Regions from separate parts of the Homo sapiens genome. Here regions 2, 3 and 4 are each linked to region 1. Evidence: fine-mapped expression QTL. A gene starts in region 1. Each other region holds a variant in brackets. All regions are shown on one strand. Distances are from middle to middle.

Evidence for each region. PIP is the estimated chance that this variant, and not a neighbour inherited with it, causes the effect. A credible set is the group of variants that fine-mapping cannot tell apart.
Region 2: its variant is the best candidate, but not a certain one, in a credible set for the expression of AMIGO2 in monocytes after LPS (Quach 2016, PIP 0.58).
Region 3: its variant is the best candidate, but not a certain one, in a credible set for the expression of AMIGO2 in whole blood (INTERVAL, PIP 0.88).
Region 4: its variant is the best candidate, but not a certain one, in a credible set for the expression of AMIGO2 in lung (TOPMed, PIP 0.54).

Annotation. Positions count from the first base shown.
Region 1 is chr12:47,077,366-47,082,516 of GRCh38, forward strand. It overlaps AMIGO2 (adhesion molecule with Ig like domain 2), which reads right to left and starts at 2,594. Exons shown (of 3, transcript NM_001370299.1): 1 at 2,097-2,594; 2 at 1,777-1,883; 3 at 1-1,700. The coding sequence starts at 1,637. The coding sequence ends at 69. It overlaps PCED1B (PC-esterase domain containing 1B), which reads left to right and starts at 2,256. Exons shown (of 4, transcript NM_138371.3): 1 at 2,256-2,360.
Region 2 is chr12:47,341,243-47,346,393 of GRCh38, forward strand. LOC124900322 (small nucleolar RNA SNORA64/SNORA10 family) reads right to left here and starts at 5,055; the gene lies at 4,924-5,055. It also overlaps the pseudogene PPIAP45. The variant T/A (reference allele first, on the strand shown) is at 2,422.
Region 3 is chr12:47,203,977-47,209,127 of GRCh38, forward strand. The region is part of intron 2 of PCED1B (PC-esterase domain containing 1B); the gene reads left to right. PCED1B-AS1 (PCED1B antisense RNA 1) reads right to left here. Exons shown (of 3, transcript NR_026544.1): 3 at 4,444-5,151. Among named protein-coding and RNA genes, the nearest start is that of PCED1B-AS1, 9.9 kb to the right of the region's middle. The variant A/G (reference allele first, on the strand shown) is at 2,402.
Region 4 is chr12:47,183,857-47,189,007 of GRCh38, forward strand. All of the region lies in intron 2 of PCED1B (PC-esterase domain containing 1B), which reads left to right. It overlaps MIR4698 (microRNA 4698), which reads left to right and starts at 3,956; the gene lies at 3,956-4,035. The variant A/T (reference allele first, on the strand shown) is at 2,777.

The sequences.
Region 1 (5,151 bases):
TTGCAGACCACACACAAAGTTAAATATGAACAGATTAAATTATGACATCATACAAATATAGGCACAAATTAAGTGGACGCCACAAAAGGTGTGTCAGAAAACACTGAATTGACTGAATCTGAGTCAGATTTCCCCCTCGTGGACTTTAGGATGCCCTCAGCTATCACTGCCTCGCTGGGAAAGAGCCTGACTTTCCCGTTCTGCCCTGCTGCAGTATCCTTCAGGGGTTCCAAAAACACCACTCTTTTACCTGCACCTGCCTTCCGTTCATCAGCGGAGGCATCACTAGCGGGGCCAGGACTGAGAATCGATGAATGGGCATTGCTTTGGTGTAGCATATTTTTCTGTCTCTTGGTTTTACACTTGCAGGGGCATGGAGTCAGATAGAGGTACAAAAGTACCAAAACGATACTGGCCACGCAAGCAGCAAGAGTGGTAAAAGCTGTGTTAAATGCCTCATGAGCATGGGATCTGCTTACAGTGAAATTGCTCACATTTATTGTGACGTCCACAGTTTCATTTAACAGGCGTTGCTTATTCATTGCGATACAAGAATACACTCCAGCATCCTCAAAACGAGGGCTTTCTATAACCAGACTTCCATTGTGAAACACGTAAAAGTTTTCCATCTCTTTATCCGGCTCTAGCAGTCTGTTATCTGGACCCACCCAGATGAAATCCGTATTTGCATTACCTGTCTTGCTGTCACAGTGGACCATCAGTCTTTCCCCGACCTGAGCCTCATGAATAAAGCCAAGCGCACGAAAGGAACCATTGATGATGCTGTCAGAGCAATTCATAAAGCTATCCTGGAGCAGAAGTACCTGACGCGAGTGCCTGGAGTCAGACCACAGGCGACAGGTGTAATCGTTCTTAAAATCCATCACTGAGCTAAAGTGCCTACGATACCAAAAGACCAGCAAGGAGTACAGGGAACAGTCACAGACAAATGGGTTTCCATGAAGGTAGATGCCTCTCAGCTGTTTTCCTGGCACTAAATTTATGTGGTGCATTGGCATGGAAGGAATTCGGTTATAAGAAACATCTAAAAACATCAGTTCTGCCAGCTTGAACCTTCCAACATACAAATCCATCGGAAACTGTGTGAGAAAATTTCCACTTAAGTAGAGTTTCTGCAACTGGGAGAGCCCTCCAAACGCTGAAGGATCGAGATAGGATATGTGATTGTTGTAAAGCAGAAGCACTTCCAGAACCTTCAACTCTTGGAATACAGCATTTTTCACCGTCTTCAGCTTATTGGACGATAAGTCAAGACACTTCAAATTTGGAGTTGTGGAAAAACTGCCCGTGGAAATGCTGGTGATGTTGTTATGACGAAGAATTAGGGTGTTCAGCTTTGCAAACGATACTGGAATCCACTCAGAATCCAGAAGCCCAATTCTGTTATAACTCAGGTCCAGTCTCTTAATCAGTCTGAAAAGGTTCCCAGGCACCTTGGACAGGTTTTTGTTGGTGCAGCTGACGATGTCAGTGGCACAGATGCAAGCGGTGGGGCACACCCCAGAGGCACCAGGGCCCACAGTCACTGTGATCATCAGCAAACACAGCAGCTCCCTGCAGCCCGGTCTGACGACGGCTCCAAGCAGGGTGGGCAGAGTGTGTACACGTAACGACATTATGGTCGCCTCTGAGTCTCTTCCCGGTGTCTTTTCCACCGGCTCAGCCTCCCACCAGTGAACCTGGCAAACAATTAATAATTCAGAGGGAGTAAAAAGCAGAAACTGACTACCACTAGTTAACCCATAAGAGCCATACCTTACTTTCTTTCCAATAACTTTTGAAATGGGTTTTATTTCACAATAGGGAGCTCTGTGTTGCCTCTTCACTGTTAAATGTATTTTTTCCTCTTTCCTGGGTTAGTCCTGCTTATAAAAATGTACAGTCACATTCTCTCCATACAACCCACCGTCTCACCCACCATCAGAAACTCAATTTTTTCCTAAGGTGCATCCTGCGTTGTTGTTGTTGTTGTTGTTGTTTTAAACTCCCTCCAACAGACACAACTATACGCAAACGTACGCTACAAACAATTAAACGGAAATACTTAGCAACCACCCATCCAGGAAAAAACTCACGGTGCTGGGGAGCCTCGTGGGCTCCGGGGAGGCTGCCTACGCAGTGCCTTCCGAAGGTCTGCGCGTCCGTCTGTCCGTGTCTGTCACTCTTGCACCTTCCGACTTCCTTTCCCTCCGGCTCCCGGCGGGCGGCACCCTCTAGCCGGCTCTCAACTTTGAGGAGTTTCAAGCAGCCGCGGCGGCAGCAGCAGCCCTGGACGCAGCAGCCAAGCTCTTCGCTGGCTCCCGGGGGCTCTCCCGGGTTCCTCTCATTGCAGGCTGAAGGTACCGCCTCGGCGCTCTGGCCGCCGTGTGCCCGCGCGCGGGGCGCCCCGCTCCCAGAGCCGGGGCCGCGGGAGGGGGCGCAGGCAGCCGGGCGGCAGCGGGCGGCCCCGCCTCTCCGCACTCGGGAGGCTGCAGGACCCGGGGTTCCCGCGCGCCCGGGGCCGGGAGACGGGCTGGGGCGCCGGTCCCACCCCTGCGCGTCCTGCCTCCTGCGGGCAGCAGCTCGGAGCCTGCGGGAGGGAGCAGGCTGGGCGCGTGGTGGGGGGCGCGCGATGCGGAGGGGGCGGCGGCGCAGCCAATCCGAGAGGCGGCCGGCGCCCCCTCATACCGCCCCGCGGCCTCGCCGCCTCCTCCCGCTTTCCTCCTCCAGCTCCCACCCGGACCTCTAGAACGGCCGCGCAGAGCGGGGAGGGGGCAGGGGTCCACACCAGAGGCCCAGACTCTGGTCCTTGAGTCAAGATGCCCAACCCACTCGCCTACCAATTACGTCCCTTCGTCCAGCTCCAAGCCGGGCGGTAATGGGGTCCAGGAAGGCTAAAGGGGACACGCCCAGCCACCGAGGGAGGGGTCTCACCCTTGGAGACCCACTTCGCGGCGGCCGCACAGGTCACGTCTCTCTCCCCACCCAGGCCAAGGAATCCCCGGACCTCTTAGAGCTTTGCTTTGGGGCAAGGGCCAAGGAGGCTTTGCCTGCGCCAAGTGCAGTTGACTGTCTGGGTTTACAAAATAAACCCAGAAGCAGCCTGACGTCTCCGCTCGTTTCTAGGGAGGAGGTCGCGGGGAGGGAAGTCGGGAACGTTTCCTCTCCACAGGGATATCTGCTGGGAGGAAGTAACCGGGAAATCGCCACGGGGACACCCCTCACCTCCCTGGGAAAGTTCTATCCCTTTCCTGACTCAGGAGGCGGCAACAGGGATGGTGTCCAATTCAAGAAGGAGGAGGGCAGGAAAGAAGGCTTGGAGCCGACCTTCCGGCTGGAATGCAAAGATAAGAGTATTAACCCAAATAATAATAATAATCCCAGAGCAGACCTTTTTTTCTTTTTTCTCTCTTCTCCTTCCCCTCTTCTCTCTCCCTCTCTCTCTCCCTCTCTCTCCTTTCTCTTTCGTTCTCTCTCTCTCATTTCCTCTGTCTCTGTCCCCGCCACCTCCCCGTCTTTTGCAAGCGTGCTCGTGGCGCGTGCGGGACAGGGAAGTAAGGGGCGTGTGCGCGGAGGCTCTTCATCCCTTCCGGAGATGCCGCGGCCGACCAGCGCGCTTTGGTTCAGCAAGCACAGAAGGTGCAAGCCGAACAAGGCCATTCAGAAATGAGGTGGAGACTATGAGGCTGATGAGCTCTACGATTAAAAATCCATTTTTGTTTAATTCCAAGATAAGTTTTAACGATGGGATTTGAGTGAGTCAGATCGCCCATTTGGCCATTATATCCGGATTAAAAGAAATAAATTACTGCCTTGACAAAAGATGCCAACCACAGTGGAATGAAAAGCAACCAAATTGAGGAAACAGTTGGGGCAGGATAGATAACTTGTAATATTACTTAAAAATAAAAATGATGAGGACAACCAACTCTTCCTCCCCTCCCCCGCGCACCTTTTCACTTGAGCAATCTTGAATTTAGTGAAAGTTGTTTCCTACATGGTCCGTGAGTCATTGCTGTGGTCAGGCAGATTTGTTAGACCAACACCTAATTTAAATAGAATTGTTTGTGGAATAAAGCCGGGCTAGCACTAATAAATCTAGGCATTTTCAGATGAGGACAACTTGATTCAGATTAATTTATTTCATGAAAGTTGAATTTTATCATAAGAACACAGCCTAAAATGCTTCATGCAAGCATTTCTTACTGTGTACTTAAAGGGGAGAGGCAGAAGTTGAGATTTTCTAGTATTAGGCCACACTTCCTGGGATTCTCAAAAGCTTGGTCTCCAGGACTTCAATTTTATAGAGTTAGAATAGTTAATACAGAGGAATAGAATTAAAATCGCTCAGAGGAATATTTTTTAAATGACTAATAAATGACCAGGTTTTTGCAGGATTTTACTAATTAACATCGTATTTTAAGGAAACCATGAAGGCAGAAGAAAGACCTGTATTTAATGCAAAAATAGTCTAAAAAGAATAAGTGATTCAAAAAAATGGAAACAGGAAGGTTATATTATTATAACTACAGGCATATTGTAGAAACATTATGCAGAGATTACACAGCAAAAGTAAACTAAATGCACTCAAAATCCATAGACAAGGCTATTTATCCATTTGAAGACCTGATTTGGGGGATTTCACATGTTTGTGAAAGGGAAGAACGTTGTAAAAGGATTGAGTTTACTAGCTGGGAGGAAAGAAAGATAAGAGTTGATCTTAAGGTATAAGACGTGACCTTATTTTGTGGAGGATAACATTTTTATCTTTCTAGCATCCCTTCTCCTTCTAACAGATTCCCTCTTTCCACTAGAAGGTAAATTCCAAGAGGATAGCAGTTTTATCTGTTTTGTGTATTGCTGTATTCTCAGCTCTCAGAACCCTGCTTAACACATTCAATAAATTTTTGATAAATGAACTGATGAACAGGGAACCTATTCAAAGTGGTTAAGATAACGGTTTACCCCAACTGAATCTGCTGGTTGCTGTCCTGCCTTTTATGCTTTGAAAGCTTGTCTTAAAAAAAAGGAGAAGAAAGAGAAAGAGGAGTCCTGTAAATGTTATTTGAGTCCTGGATCTGGTAGTACCTGAAGGCCACTGCATACTTTTACTTCCTTTTTAATTATATTTTCCACCCCACCCCCTTTTTT
Region 2 (5,151 bases), 260 kb after region 1:
CCTTATACAGTTTTTTGGGGCTGGAATAACAGCATTTGACAGAACATGATACTACCGTATGTAGTGCATCAATTAATACTTGTTAACTCTCAAACATAGGGTCACAGCCAAGCAGAGCTGCTACTATGTGGGATATATAGGGCCCCTGGAAAATTGTTTATTGTTATTTAATTTTTATTTCATAATTAATAAACTTAACTGTGCAATCCAGCTAGATGTGAAGGGGATAGGAAAAATATAGAACCCAAAGAACTGCAGTGAGAGCACAAAGATTATAGGATATTGCAAGTAAATGGGGTGGAAGGGTGCTTTCCTGAGCTACAGAAAAAATGGTCTGGTGGTTAAGATAAAACAAGTCAAATTTACTAGCATTTCCCACAATTGGCAATGGTGATATTCTTGCTGGTCTTGCCATTCCTGGATCCAAAGTGCTCCATGGTTTCCACAATATTCATGCCCTCTTTTATCTTCCCAAAGACAACAGGCTTGCTATGTAACCACTCAGTCTTGGCCGTGCAGATGAAAAACTGGGAATTGTTTGTGCTGAGTCCTGCATTTACCATGAACATCACGCCAGGACCTGTATGCTTCAGGATGAGATTCTCATCATCAAATTTCTCTCTGTAGATAAGCTTGTCACCAACGCCATAATGGCATGAAGTCACCACCCTAGCACGTAAGGCCTGGAATAATTCTGTAAAAGTAAGAACCCATATAACAAAATCCTCTCTCGCCAGCTCTCAAGTACAAAATTTTCTGCTGTCTGTGGAACTTTGTCTGCAAACAGCTCAAAGAAGACACAGCCCAAGTTGATGATGGCATCAAAGAACACAGTGGGATTGACCATGACGGGTGCAGGTGGCTCTGGGAGGCATCCATCTGCAAAGCAAGGAAAATATATGTATACATTTTAAGAAGCCTTGCCTAACTAAACAGTTTTATTGAAAATGCTTTACAAATTGTGTGGGCTCTGGAAAGTATAGTGATTTATCAATAAAAATTCAGAATAATGGGTAGAAAGGAGTAGAAGAGATGCTTACATATTTATTTATTGTCAAATCAGGGCAAATATCCAGACATCATCTCTTCCTATTTTGGTCTAGGAATCATCTTTTCATCTTCTTTATTGTCACAGATGCCATTCCTGGATAATTTCACATTTCCCACCATGACAAAAAGATAGCGGTACCTTTTTTCATGTGTCTGTTGGCTGCATAAATGTTTTCTTTTGAGAAGTGTCTGTTCATATCCTTCGCCCACTTTTTGATGGGGTTGTTTGATTTTTTCTTGTTAATTTGTTTAAGTTCTTTGTAGATCCTGGATATTAGCACTTTGTCAGATGGGTAGATTGCAAAAACTTTCTCCCATTCTGTAGGTTGCCCGTTCACTCTGGCCATCAGAGAAATGCAAATCAAAACCACAATGAGATACCATCTCACACCAGTTAGAATGGCAATCATTAAAAGGTCAGGAAACAACAGGTGCTGGAGAGGATGTGGAGAAATAGGAACCCTTTTATACTGTTGGTGGGACTGTAAACTAGTTCAACCATTGTGGAAGACAGTGTGGTGATTCCTCAAGGATCTAGAACTAGAAATACCATTTGACCCAGCCATCTCATTACTGGGTATATACCCAAAGGATTATAAATCATGCTGCTATAAAGACACATGCACACGTATGTTTATTGTGGCACTATTCACAATAGCAAAGACTTGGAACCAACCCAAATGTCCATCAATGATAGACTGGATTAAGAAAATGTGGCACATATACACCATGGAATACTATGCAGCCATAAAAAAGGATGAGTTCATGTCCTTTATAGGGACATGGATGAAGCTGGAAACCATCATTCTGAGCAAACTGTCACAAGGACAGAAAACCAAACACTACATGTTCTCACTCATAGGTGGGAATTGAACAATGAGAACAGTTGGACACAGGATGGGGAACATCACACACCGGTGCCTGCCATGGGGTGGGGGGTTGGGGGAGGGATAGCATTAGGAGATATACCTAATGTAAATGACAAGTTAATGGGTGCAGCACACCAACATGGCAGATGTATACATATGTAACAAACCTGCATATTGTGCACGTGTACCCTAGAACTTAAAGTATAATAATAAAAAAATGAAAAAAATGAATTATGGCAGGCTTCAGAAACCATGCAAGTCTGGAGACAAATTGGCATGTTTAAACTGCTGAGAGAAGGGAAAAATAATAACTCTCCACAATTCTATACGCAGTGTGAATATCTTTCAAAAATGAAGGAGAAATTAAGACTTTTCACACAAAAGCAGAGAATTCATTACCCAGAAGCGGACTATAAGAAATATTAGAGGAAGTTTTTCAGGCTTAAGTTCTACATACCAGAGAGAAAGTTGGATCTACACAAAGAAATGAAGATTCCAGAAA[T/A]GGTTAAAATGAAGATAAACGTAAAAGACTTTTTCTGACTTTTAATAGCTGTAAAAGATAATTGATTAGCTAAATTTTAAAAATAGTAGTAGTGAAAACAGGGAAAAGAGTGAGTACAGGGAAAGTACAGTAGTTTTGTGGGTGTGTAGCATATGTAAAAGCAAAATGTATGACAGCCATAACCCTAGTACACCAGTTGGGGCACCACACAGTGAAGAGGTAGAATACTCCTTGAATCTAGACTGTGATTAGTTTAAGATGTACATTGAAAATCTTAATTGTGGTGGCAGTTATATGACTGTATGCATTTGTCCAAATTCATAAAGTTGTACACTTAAAAGATTTAATCTTACCAATTATATATTATACTGCCTCCCTGCAAAAAAAAAGTTAGCGGTACCATCATGACTCACAATGTCATGACTCTTGGGAACCTGTTTATATTGGAACCATACAGACCTGCTTGTCTCTTCAGTTCCCTAGGTCCATTTATTTAATGCTGGTTACATCATTACACATGTCACTGGATCTTCTACTGTGTGGCCTGTTTCCAATAACTCTCTCCAAGGTAATTACTGCGATTCACTGTTGATGACCACAAATGCAAGTCTCACTAAGAGAATTATGGAAAATGTGAACAATAACCCATTTTGAGGTCCTTTAGTTTAAAATTGTGTAGCATAAAGGTAGAACAGCATGTTTTCCAACTCTATCTTCTCTTGAACTCTTTGAGCTGAATGTGATCTCTTCTGATACTGACCACCCTCCTGTCTTCCATACACCACCACTAGAATCACTTACCAAAAAAAGTTACCTTTTTTTCATGTTAAAAAGTGTTCAACAGAAATGAGTTTTTCTTTTTTTCTTTTTTTTTGAGATGGAGTTTCACTCTGTTGCCCAGGCTGGAGTGCAGTGGTGCAATCTTGGCTCACTGCAACCTCCGCCTCCCAAGTTCAAGCGATTCTCCTGCCTCAGCCTCCCGAGTAGCTGGGACTACAGGCACGTGCCACCACACCCAGCTAGTTTTTTGTATTTTTAGTAGAGACGGGGTTTCACCATGTTAGCCAGGATGGTCTCGATATCCTGACCTCGTGATCTGCCCACCTCAGCCTCCCAAAGTGCTGGGATTTACAGGCCTGAGTCACCACGCCTAGCCGAGTTTTTCTTTCTTTTCTTGTGTGGCAACTTTCCATTATGCCTGGCATTCCGAGTCATGCATGTGTGCAAGGTTTTGCAAAATCTTAGAGATAGAGAAGAGGCCAAAAGATGAGGTGTGAGGGACATTTCACAAGTTATGAAAATATAAATTCAAAAAGGTATCACTAAAACTATCCTACTAAATTATATTATTGATAGCATCCATTAAAATAGGCTATTATCAAAAAAAACAACAACAAATGCTGGTTAGGATGCAGAGAAAGGAGAACACTAGTCCACTACCGGGGGGAGTGGAAACTGGTACAGCCACTGTGGAAAACAGTATCGACCTTCCTCTAAAAACTAAAGATAGATGTGCCATACAATTCAGCAATCCCAAAAGTCACAATATCGAATCAGCCTAAGTGTCCCTCAATGAATGGATTAAAAAAAATTGTATACATATACACAATGGAATACTATTCAGCCACAAAAGAATGAAGTTCTGTCATTTGCATTAACATAGATGGAACTGGAAGATATTATGTTAAGTGAAATAAACCAGGCCCAGAATAATGGGTAGAAGAAGTGGAAATATTGCATGTTCTCACTCATATGTGGTAGCTAAAAATATTGAGCTCATGGATGTAGAGAGTAGAATAATAATTACTAGAGGCTGGGAAAGGTTGGGGATGGGAAATAAAGAGAGGCTGGTTAAAGGTGCAAAAATACAATTAGAAGGAATAAGTTCTAGTGTTCCATAGCATAGTAGGGTGACTATAATTAACAATAATTTGTTGTATATTTCAAAATAGCTAAAAGAGAATATTTGGAATGTTCCCAACATAAAAAATAAAAAAATGTTTGAAGTGACAAATCTCCCAATTACCCTGATTTGATCATTACACATTGTATGCATGTTTAATACATATCACACGTATCCCATACATATGTACAATTATCATTTATCAATCACTTGAACCCAGGAGGCGGAGGTTGCAGTGAGCCCAGATTGTGCCATTGCACTCTAGCTTGGGCAACAAGAGCAAGACTCTGTCTCAAAAAAAAAAAAAGAAAGAAAAGAATGGATGCTATGAATGATAGTTTAATAAAATTTTTATTGATACATGATAATTGCGATTCTCCTGCCTCAGCCTCCTGAGTAGCTGGGATTACAGGCGCCCACCACCACACCTAAATCATTTTTGTATTTTTAGTAGAGACGGGGTTTCACCATGTTGGCCATGGTGATCTTGAACTCCTGACCTCGTGATCTGCCCACCTCAGCCTCCCAAAGTGCTGGGATTACAGGCATTAGCCACCGCACCCGGCAGCATCCATTATTTTCTTTTTTTTCCCCCCAAAAGCTATCATACTCCTAGAAATAGAGAGGCCCTTCTGGGCAGGTCTGTTGTGATTAGGAGAGCCTTCCTCTGCCTCCCAGAAAAGACACCAAGCACACACTGGACCTGTGTGATTAAGCGGCACTGAGAGGCCTATTTTATAATTTTAAAACTTGTTAAGTTTCTTTGGTCACCATTAATCTCTGCCACAATCACATGTATCACTCAGGCCACCACTACCAACATTACT
Region 3 (5,151 bases), 130 kb after region 1:
TTCCCCACAACCTCGCCAGCATCTGTTGTTTTTTGACTTTTTAAAAGTAGCCTCCGCCTCCCAGGCTCAAACGATCCTCTACCTCAGCCTCCCAAGTAGCTGGGACTACAGGCATGTGCCATCATGCCTGGCTAATTTTTGTATTTTTAGTAGAGACAGGGTTTCATTCGCTATGTTGGTCAAGCTGGTCTCGAACTCCTGATCTTAAATGATCTGCCCGCTTCGGCATCCCAAAGTGCTGGGATTACAAGTGTGAGCCACCACGCCCAACCCCCATATGAATTTAAAATTTTTTTTTTCTAATTATGTGAAGAATGTCAATGGTAGTTTAATGGGAATAGCATTGAATCTATAAATTGCTTTGGGCAGTATGGTCATTTTCATGATATTGATTCTTCCTATCCATGAGCATGGAATGCTTTTCCATTTGTTTATGTCCTCTCTGATTTCTTTGAGCAGTGGTTTGTAGTTCTCCTTGAAGAGGTCCTTCACTTCCTGATACTCTTCCATGTTTAATATGCAAAGTGAATCTATATACAAAGAACAAACCCTGCTCATTTATTCATTTGTATCTCATGTCTGGTCCCTACAGCCATTTAACTTTGCAACTCCTGGTCTCACTCACAGATCTCTGGGTGTTCTTGAAGTGTGTATTATGCTGTTAATTTACTCCCAGGGCTACCTTGCACTTTGTTTCCTTAATCCTCCACTGCCTACAGACCAGGGGAGGCAGGTCATGCATCTAAAAGTCAAGGTTCTGGGTGGCTCTTAATTGCTCCTCTGAATTTGCCTTATTGTCTACAGATGGGCCATAACATTTATTTCTAATTTAGCAATAAATACTATATACTTAGTGACTCCTAGTATAAAAGAATCTGGATACTCTAGTTCAGTTGCCTCCGTAATCATTTAATTTTCCTTGTAATTGAGGTTATATGTAAATACTGTAACCATAAACTAATGTAGCCAATAGTGTAACCACCTAACAGGTTCTCCTTGCCCACTGCCTAGAGAGAGCCAGTTTATTAAGACAGGGGAATTGCAACAGAGAAAGTGTAACTCGTGCAGAGCCACAGTATGGGAGACTGGAGTTTTATTATTACTCAAATCAGCCTCTCCAGAGTTCAGGGATCAGAGTTTTTAAGGATAATTTGATGGGTAGGGGGTTGGAAAGTGGGGCGTGCTGATAGATCAGGTCAGAGATGAAATCATAAAAAGTCTAAGTTGTCCTCTTGCACTGAATCAATTCCTGGATGGAGGCTACAAGATCAGATGAGCCAGTTTATCGATCTGGGTGGTACCAGCTGATCCATGGAGTACAGGGTCTACAAAATACCTCAAGCACTGATCTTAGGTTTTATTATAGTGACGTTATCCCCAGGAGCAATTTGGAAAGGTTCAGAATCCTGCAGCCTCCAGCTGCATGACTCCTAAACCATAATTTATAATCTGGTACCTAAGGTGGTAGTCTTGCAAAGACAGTGTAGTCTTCAGGTAGGAAGGTGGTTTGTTTTGGCAAAGGGCTGTTACCGTCTTTGTTTCAAAGTTATACTATAAACTAAGTTCCTGCCAAAGTTAGTTCAGCCTATACCCAGGAATGGTGTAACAGCTTGGAAATTAGAAGCAAGGTGGAGTCAGTTAGGTCAGATTTCTTTCACTGACATAATTTTCTTAGTTGTAATTTTTGCAAAGTCAGTTTCAATAGGTTTTTATGAATAGGAGGAAAGAAAGAGAGGGAAAGAGGGAGAAGAGGAGGGAGGAAAAGAGGGAGAGAGAGAGGAAGGAAGGAAGGAAGGAAAAAAAAGGGGCAATAACCATGTAACCGCCTAAGGGGTTCACCTTGCCCACTGCGTAGACAGAGCCAATTCACCAAAATAAGGGAATTGGAATAGAGAAAGAGTAATTCACGCAGAGCCAACTGTGCAGGAGACCAGGGTTTTATTATTACTCAAATCAGTCTCCCCCAGCGTTTGGAGAGCAGAGTTTTTAAGGACAATTTGGTGGGTTGGGGGAAGCCAGTGAGCCAGGAGTGCTGATTGGTTAGGGATGAAATCACAAGGAGTCGAAGCTGTCTTCTTGCGCTGAGTCAGTTCCTGGGTGGAGGGCACAAGATCAGATGAACCAGTTTACCGATCTGGATGGTGTCAGCTGATCCATCACATGCAGGGTCTGCAAAATATCTCAAGCATTGATCTTGGGAGCAGTTTAGGGAGGGTCAGAATCTTGGAGACTCCAGCTGCATGACTCCTATCCATAATTTCTAATCTTGTGGCTCATGTTAGTCCTACAAAGGCCATCTAGTCCCCAGACAAGAAGGAGGTCTGCTTTGGCAAAGGGCTGTTATCATCTTTGTTTCAAACTATAAACTAAATTTCTCCCAAAGTTAGTTCAGCCTATGCCC[A/G]GGAATGAACAAGGACAGCTTGGAGGTTAGAGGCAAGATAGCTAGCGTTGGTTAAGTTAGATCTCTTTCACCGTCTCAGTCATAATTTTGCAAAGGCAGTTTCAACCATAGTCAGCCCTCAGTAAGTACTAACCATAATATTGTCAATGATTGGCACCAGGCTTGGTGTGTTTTGCTCCACCTCCTGCCTCCTTGGTAATTCCTCAGCCTGCTGGGGACAAGGCAAAAGTCTTTTTTCAGTTTCTCTTTATATGAATTGATCATTTTTCAACTGCTAGGTTTTCTTTGGGGGACTGAGGCAGAAGGATCACTTGAGGCCAGGAGTTCAAGACCAGCCTGGTCAATATAGCGAAACCTCATCTCTACCCCGCCCCCGCAACAAAAAAAAAATCCAAGGTTTTTTTAAGGACCTTGTATGTTAAAAATGAAAGTGAAGAAGTAGATCTGACGGTAGTTACAGACACTACCCTGTTTCTACCTTCCACTCTGTGCTCTCAAATCCCAACATCACCAACATAAATAAATGGTGATTAGATGCTTTAGCCAGCATTTGCTCTTGCCTTAGGTAAATGGCTATTCGAATGGCCAGGGACTTTGACATACTCATCCAACTGAAGCTGAACTCAACTTGGCAGGCTCTGCCCAGGTAGAAGGAGCTTTGAATGGGATTTTAGCAAACAATCAGATGTTACCAAAATCTTATTAGGAGAACAGCATGTAGAGTTACCCTGTGGTCTCTAGCTCAGGGCCTTGAGGGAATATCCTTTCAGAGCCTAGATGGAGCCCCATGGTCAATGCACCAAGAAAATAAAGGACTTTAGCCTGAAGGTGACAGATGGAGGACTAAATTACTTTAAACTTTTGTCCAAAATACATAAACATATTGCTAGAATAATATCAGTGTTGGTTTGAATAGCCTGTTGGATTGGTTGAGATGAAGTAAGGAGCTGGCAGCTGGGCTCATCTGGTAGCACAGATAAGAACCTAATTAGCTCTATGAAAGAGGAAGCCCTGTGCCACCTCCCCAGAGCTGTGTGAGGCCCAGGGGCACACCTTCCAGCTGCCTGAGGCTGCTGCCTCCTCCCAGTCCCACTGAGGAAAGGAAGTGCTCTTTCTCTCCTGATAGGACAAGGATGACCCAGCAGATGGGCACGTGGGCAGGCAGAGCTCTCAACTACCTTTTCTCTTAGCATGGGTGACAGTGTGTATGACCACAGACCTCCCTTCCTTCCTCTTTGCTTTTATGGACCAAGCGATGGAAGGAAATGACAATAAGGAAATCTTCCTTACACAAATATGTAAGTATGCATTCCTCTTCATCAGACACAATCACAACTTAAAGAACTTGCATCAGTCTTGTGAGCTGGCCCCTAACCCCTGACTATAATCTATTATTCTTAAGATACCTACTGAGAGAACTTATTCAGATAAAACATTTTAGGGCTTTTTGGAGCTTTTCTATTTAAAGAATAACAAGCTCCTTCTCTAGTTTTCTTTAACAAACTAAGCATATGACAGGCAGAGGTTACAGATTTTTCATAGCTTACTTCCTCCTGAAATTTAAGTCTGTGGTTAATCAAGCTCTGTGAATGACAGTTTCTCCCTCGAACTTTGTGGGCTAACACAGCTCTCTGAACACCCATAATTTGTTGGGTTTTTTTTTTCTTTTTTTCCTGAGCAGTGTAAACAATTGTAAAGCTTTAAATAAATAAGCTATAAGAAGTTTTCCCAGGGTCTTGATTCTGTGACTCCACCAGGTGTCAAGGTCTCTGAACCGGCTGCCCTTAGACACGTGCCTGAACTCAAAGCAGTCATACTGTTAAGGGATAGACTTGGTGCTGTAAACTTAGCCATTTTGGTTTTTGTTTGTTTGTTTGTTTTCAGACAGGGTCTCATCTCCCAGGCTGGAGTGCAGTGGCACGATCATAGCTCACTGCAGACTTGACTTTCTGGGCTCAGGTGATCCTCCCACCTCAGCCTCCTGAGTAGCTGAGTATAGCACGCACCACCACCCTCAGCTAATTTTTTATTTTTATTTTTTTGAGACGGAGTCTCACTCTGTCACTCAGGCTCTAGAGTGCAGTATCGCGATCTCGGCTCACTGCAACCTCTACCTCCCAGGTTCAAGCAGTCCTGCCTCAGCGTCCCGAGTAACTGGGACTACAGGCGTATTTTTAATAGAGACAGGGTTTCTCCATGTTAGCCAGGCTGGTCTCGAACTCCTGACCTCAAGTGATGCACCCACCTTGGCCTCCCAAAGTACTGGGATTATAGGCATGAGTCACCCTGCCCAGGCTATTTTTATTTTTGTATAGATAGGGTCTCACTATGTTGCCTAGACTGGTTTCAAACTCCTGGGCTCAAGCGATCCTTCCACCTTGGGCTCCTAAACTGCTGGGTTTACAGGCGTGAGGCTGTTTTGATTTCACTTGTAGGGAACAAAGACTGACACTGGCCGGGTGCAGTGGTTCATGTCTATAATCCCAACATTCTGAGAGGCTGAGGCAGGCAGATTGCTTGAGCCCAGGAGTTCAAGACCAGCCTGGTCAACATAGTGAGACCCTGTATCTACCAAAAATAACTTAACAACAACAAAAACAAATGCCCTGCTTGACTTTGTCACAGTGTTTTAATTTTCATTTACATCACCCTTCTCTATGTGGCACTGTGCGTGTGGCATCTATGCTGCTCAGGACACAGTGAGGTGTCTGGTTGTCAGGGTGAGCAAAGACCAGGGCAGGCAGAGGGAC
Region 4 (5,151 bases), 110 kb after region 1:
TCTCTGATCATGACTCCAAGGAAGACAAGGGCCCCCGCACCAGTTGGTGCTATGCTAGGCAGTGGGGATACTGCATGAACAGAACAGATATGGTTCCTGCTGAGGCAGAGCTGACATTTTATTGAGGAAAATAGACCATTAGGTACTTAAACCAGCAATAGAGAGAATATTTTTCTTTTTCTTCTTTTCTTTTTCTTTTTTGTAGAGAAAGGGTCTCCCTATGTTGCCTAGGCTGGTCTTGAACTCCTGGGCTAAAGCGATTCTCCCACCTTGGCCCTCCCAAAGTGCTGGGATTGCACCGCACCAGGCCAAGAATATTTTCCATTGTAAATGTATAAATTAGTAAATGAAGTTTACCTCAATCCCATGTGTGTTTTAGTTGGTGTGAGCTGTACCTTGCATGCTTACCCTCTGGCTACTTGCAAGAGGCAGGCTGGAGACAGTGGTGTGCTGGTAAACGACCAGCTGGGGAAGGGGAGGTGGTTTGATTTATAGCATTTGCAGATTTCCATGATGCAAATACTCCCGCCACATTGGATTTCAAACCATCCAGGTGATGCCAAGTAGCTTCCTGGAAATTTAACCATCTGCTCTCGGTAACTGCTGCCAGCAGCTCCAGCACACACCACTGGTTCTAGCCCTTCAAAGCAAGTTTAGCTAGCATTCTTCTCATCACAGACTTTTGAGTTTCACAAGCTAAGTAAAAGAATTTTTAAAAATTAGAGAAAGACTTTCTGAAATCTTTTTTCTTCCCTTCCTTCCTTCCTTTTTCCCTTCCCTTTTTCCTTCCTTCTTTTACCAAAGACACTAAAAAAAAAAAAAAATTACAATCTACAAATACCGTCATTTCATAAAAGAAAGGATATTTTAATTTTTTAAAAGTGGGAATAACATAATTTCAGAACAAAGATTAGTCCTTTAAATTTAATGAATCCAGATCTATGAAAATTTTATTACCTTACTTATTTTTCTAATTTTATTATGAACTAGGGAAAGTTTTGTGTATGCATTGGAATGTTTTTGGCTACAGGTGAAAGAAACCTGGCAGAGGTTAAGTAACCTGGAGTTATTTTTCTTACCTAGCAAGAGGTCTAGAGGTGAGTGGTTGCTGGCAGTAGTTCAACTGTGTAGTAATGCTGTCAGACTCCTTCTTTTTCCCTAGCTTTCCTTTCCACCAGCTTTAGCTTGTAAACTTGTTTCCTCATGTTTGTAGCCTCATAGTCACAAGATGTTGCTGCATCTCCAGGTAGATGAAAGGCAGGAGCAAAAGGCCTTTATATGGATTGAACTGTGTCCCCAAAAAAGATATGTTGATATCCTAACCCAGATACCTGCAAATGTGGCCTTATTTGGAATGCAAATGTAATTAGTTAAGATGAGGTCATATTGAACCAGGGTGGGCCCTAATCCAATAACTGATGTCCTTACAAAAAGAAAAAACAGAGACAGACACAAGAAGAGAACGCTATGTGAAGGCAGAGACACACACAGAGGGAAGACAGCCCTGTGAAGAAGGAGGCAGAAGTTGAAGTATTGAAGCTGCAAGCCGAGGAATGCCAAGTATTGCTGGTGTAGGAGAGGAAAATAATTACCTTTTCTGTACCCATCCTAGGTTCTCCAGCTAGGGAAAATTAGACTGCATATTAGAGTGGCCCGGCACGGTGGCTCACACCTGTAATCCCAGCACTTTGGAAGGCTGACGGGGGTGGATCACTTAAGGCCAGCAGTTCGAGACCAGCCTGGCCAACATGTTGAAACCCCATCTCTACTGAAAATACAAAGATTAGCTGGGCTTGGTGGCAGGCACCTGTAATCCCAACTATGCAGGAGGCTGAGGCAGCAGAACTGCTTGAACCTGGGAGGTGGAGGTTGCAGTGAGCTGAAATCGTGGTACTACTACTCCAGCTTGGGCAACAGCAGAGCTAGACTCAGTCTCAAAAAAAAAAAAAGACTGTATATTAGACTGACAAAAGACAGATTAACAAGAGAAAAACAAACAAGTTTATTGAAATATGCATTGCACATACACATAGGAGTATTCAGTAATAAGTAATTCAAAGGAGTGGTTAGAACTTGAACTTAGTCTGGTGCAGTGGCTCACACCTGTAATCCCAGCACTTTGGGAGGCCAAGGTGGGCGGATCACGAGGTCAAGAGTTTGAGACCAGCCTGACCAACATGGTGAAACCCCATCTCTACTAAAAATAACAAAATTAGCCAGATGTGGTGGCACGCCCCTGTAATCCCAGCTACTCAGGAGACTGAGGCAGGAGAACTGCTTGAACCCAGGGGGCAGGGGTTGCAGTGAGCCAAGATCGCGCCCCTGCACTCCAGCCTGGGTGACAGAGTGAGACTCCGTCTAAAAAAAAAGAAAAAAAAAAAGAACTTGAACTTACATAGAATTGAGCAAAGAACAATAATTTTGTAGAGAAGTGGCAAGACAAAGGAAAATGACTTTGAGCTTCTAGGGGCAGCAAATTGTGGGAAGGCAAATATATGGGGAAACTTATGGTAGATGAGGGCTAGTTAATACGTTTTGTTTTTGTAGATTCCTCTGGATGACATCTTGTCTCCAGTGATAAGGTGTTGTCCCTTTATGTTATCCCTTTACTGGTAGGGGGGTAGAGGGGGGCACTTTCACAAGGGGAGCTTATGTTCTGTTTTCAGGCAGATAGGAGGCGGACAGAGATCTCATCCTGGGTCTGCTTTTTCTCAGTTGCCTTCAAGTCAAAATAATCCATATGCCAGAGTGGCATATTGTGGGGTGGCATAATCCA[A/T]ACCCCTTCATTGGCAAGCATCAGAAGCCAGGAAGAGACAAGAAAAGGTTTTTTCCCCTACAGCTTTCAGAAGGAGCATGGCCCTGCTGACACCTTATTTCAGTCTGAGGGCCTTCAGAATTGTGAGATACTACATTTCTGTTGTAATCTACCCAGTTTGTGATACTTCGTGATGGCAGCCCAAGGAAATTAACACAGCACAAAATCTTGTCTTTACTTAGGATATCTCCAGCTGATTTCTTTTTATATCCTATTGGCCAGAACAAGGTCAAATGCCCAAACCAAGAACAACCAATTGATAAAGGGAAGGAGATTTCCATGACTGGTTAGGCCTATCCTGGAGTCGGGGACCACTCTCCTTGGAAGCAAAGATCTCTCCTTACCACCTGAACACACTGAAAGAAGGGAAAATGGCTCTTGGGGAGGTAGTGGGTAGTGCCTATCACACTTGAAGGTGGACCACTGTGCTGCTCTGTGGACTTTAGAAATGCTGCCCTACTTAACAGTGTTTGAGATTCATCTCAAAACAGATCTTTACCTTCTCCAGAAGCACTCAGGAGTTTAGGTGAAAGATCCAGGTGGATAGCTCCAGGGTAAGAAGTTAGAAATGCTGACACTATGTGAGAGATAGTGTTCATAGGGAGAGACCATGGGATCTTACCTAAAACCAAGAAATGGGTGGTAAATGTAGTGAAAAGGAAGCACCAGGAAATTGGAAATCTCAGGGAGGAGAAAAGGCAGGTGAAATGATCTGGTACTGATGAAAATCCCCCATCTCTACATCAAGGGGATTATTAACTCAGTTTCAAAAATAGAGAACAAGAGAGAAAAAGAGAAACAGGGATGCTGTTTTAACTATAGGCAGCAGTATATAGTAAGACATATTTTTAATCTTTTATCAGTGAAAGTGTAAACAGTTAAATCCAGCACTAAATAATAAATGTGTCAATATTTTAAAATATATTTTTTCATAGCTAAAATTAGAACTAAACATGCTAATGAACTCAGCACCAAGGGCTGGAGGTGATGGAGAGAACATTTCATCTCCCAGGCAACTCCCAACTCTGCAAGTTCTAGAATTCCTAAACATTAAATTTTCTTCATTGAAGACATATTTGGGAACTATAGCTTCATCATAAGGCAGCCAAGTCTTGTGATATATGGGTTAAAGGAAAGTTATGCTTCTCCTGGGGTCTTCCTCTACATTTCCACCTAGACGGGCCTGGGTCAAAATGTAGAGGAAGACCCCAGAAGGAGCAAAACTTTCACCTGCGCCTCTTCCACCTGGGTCTGTCCTTTATCCTACCAGCTCCAAGAACAGGATTGTAATTGGTCACCTGATCTACCTGCATCTTCCTGACTGCAACAAGTTCTTTGCCCTATAGCTGCTTTATTTCCACAGTTTGTCTTACCTGGAAGCACCTCTTCCTTCTTGGAGTCCCTTCTGTTCCCCAGACATACCTCTGTCATGGCACCATAGCATTTTGTGGCTTTTAAAAATTACATGTCTTATCTCCCCTTACTAAGGACTTTGGGGACAGTGATCTTGCCTTAGTTGTCTTTGGGTTCCCAGCATCTAACACCATTGGGGTCTCTTAAATGTTGGATGAATAAATAAATTATTAAAGGCTAATCTCAGGGGGGAATAGAATATGTCATAAATTCCTCAGCTGGAACTCATAGGGATCAATGATGTCCCACACAAAAGCCCTATAGGGACAAGAATTCAGGAAGGGTGTTAGCTGCAAATCTTCCTGGCCTATGGAGAAGCATGGAATATACTGTGAGCCATATATGTCCCTGAAGCTAATCTAATCTATCTCAATGAAATTATATGCTTAGGTATTGTCATCTCAGTTTCTAATGTGTAACTTTTGCTTTCCTTGGAAATTGAAAGGATTTGAGCCATTTCTTAGGTAGTTTCAGGACGATACTGCTTCTCAGAGTTAAGGACTTCCTTTTTTCAATGTGTACCTGAACATCCAGAAGTTAAAAACAAGAGTAGCAGAGTCTTGCAGATGCAAACATAGTACAGAAGTTCTCATCCATCGCCCAAATTGAAACGTGCAATGTAAGCTGTAGCCATCCAGTTCCACTGCAGTGCTGGAGCAGAGGAGCAAGGGAGTTGGGATGAATGTGAAGAACTCAGAGGACCATTGGGAGCATATTCATTTCACTCATTCTCCGTAAAAAACAGGCATGTTGCTGGTAACCTGGACTTTTTCCAACCCTGGCTACACAGTTGCTGGATTTAGGTGCCAGACTCCTGTTGCTTCTTATTGCAAAATGCCCCCACATGGCATTTTGCCCCATTTTCATTTCTGCTTCTGATTAGGTCACTGTGAACTTTCTCTCCATGTTTACTCAAAGTACCA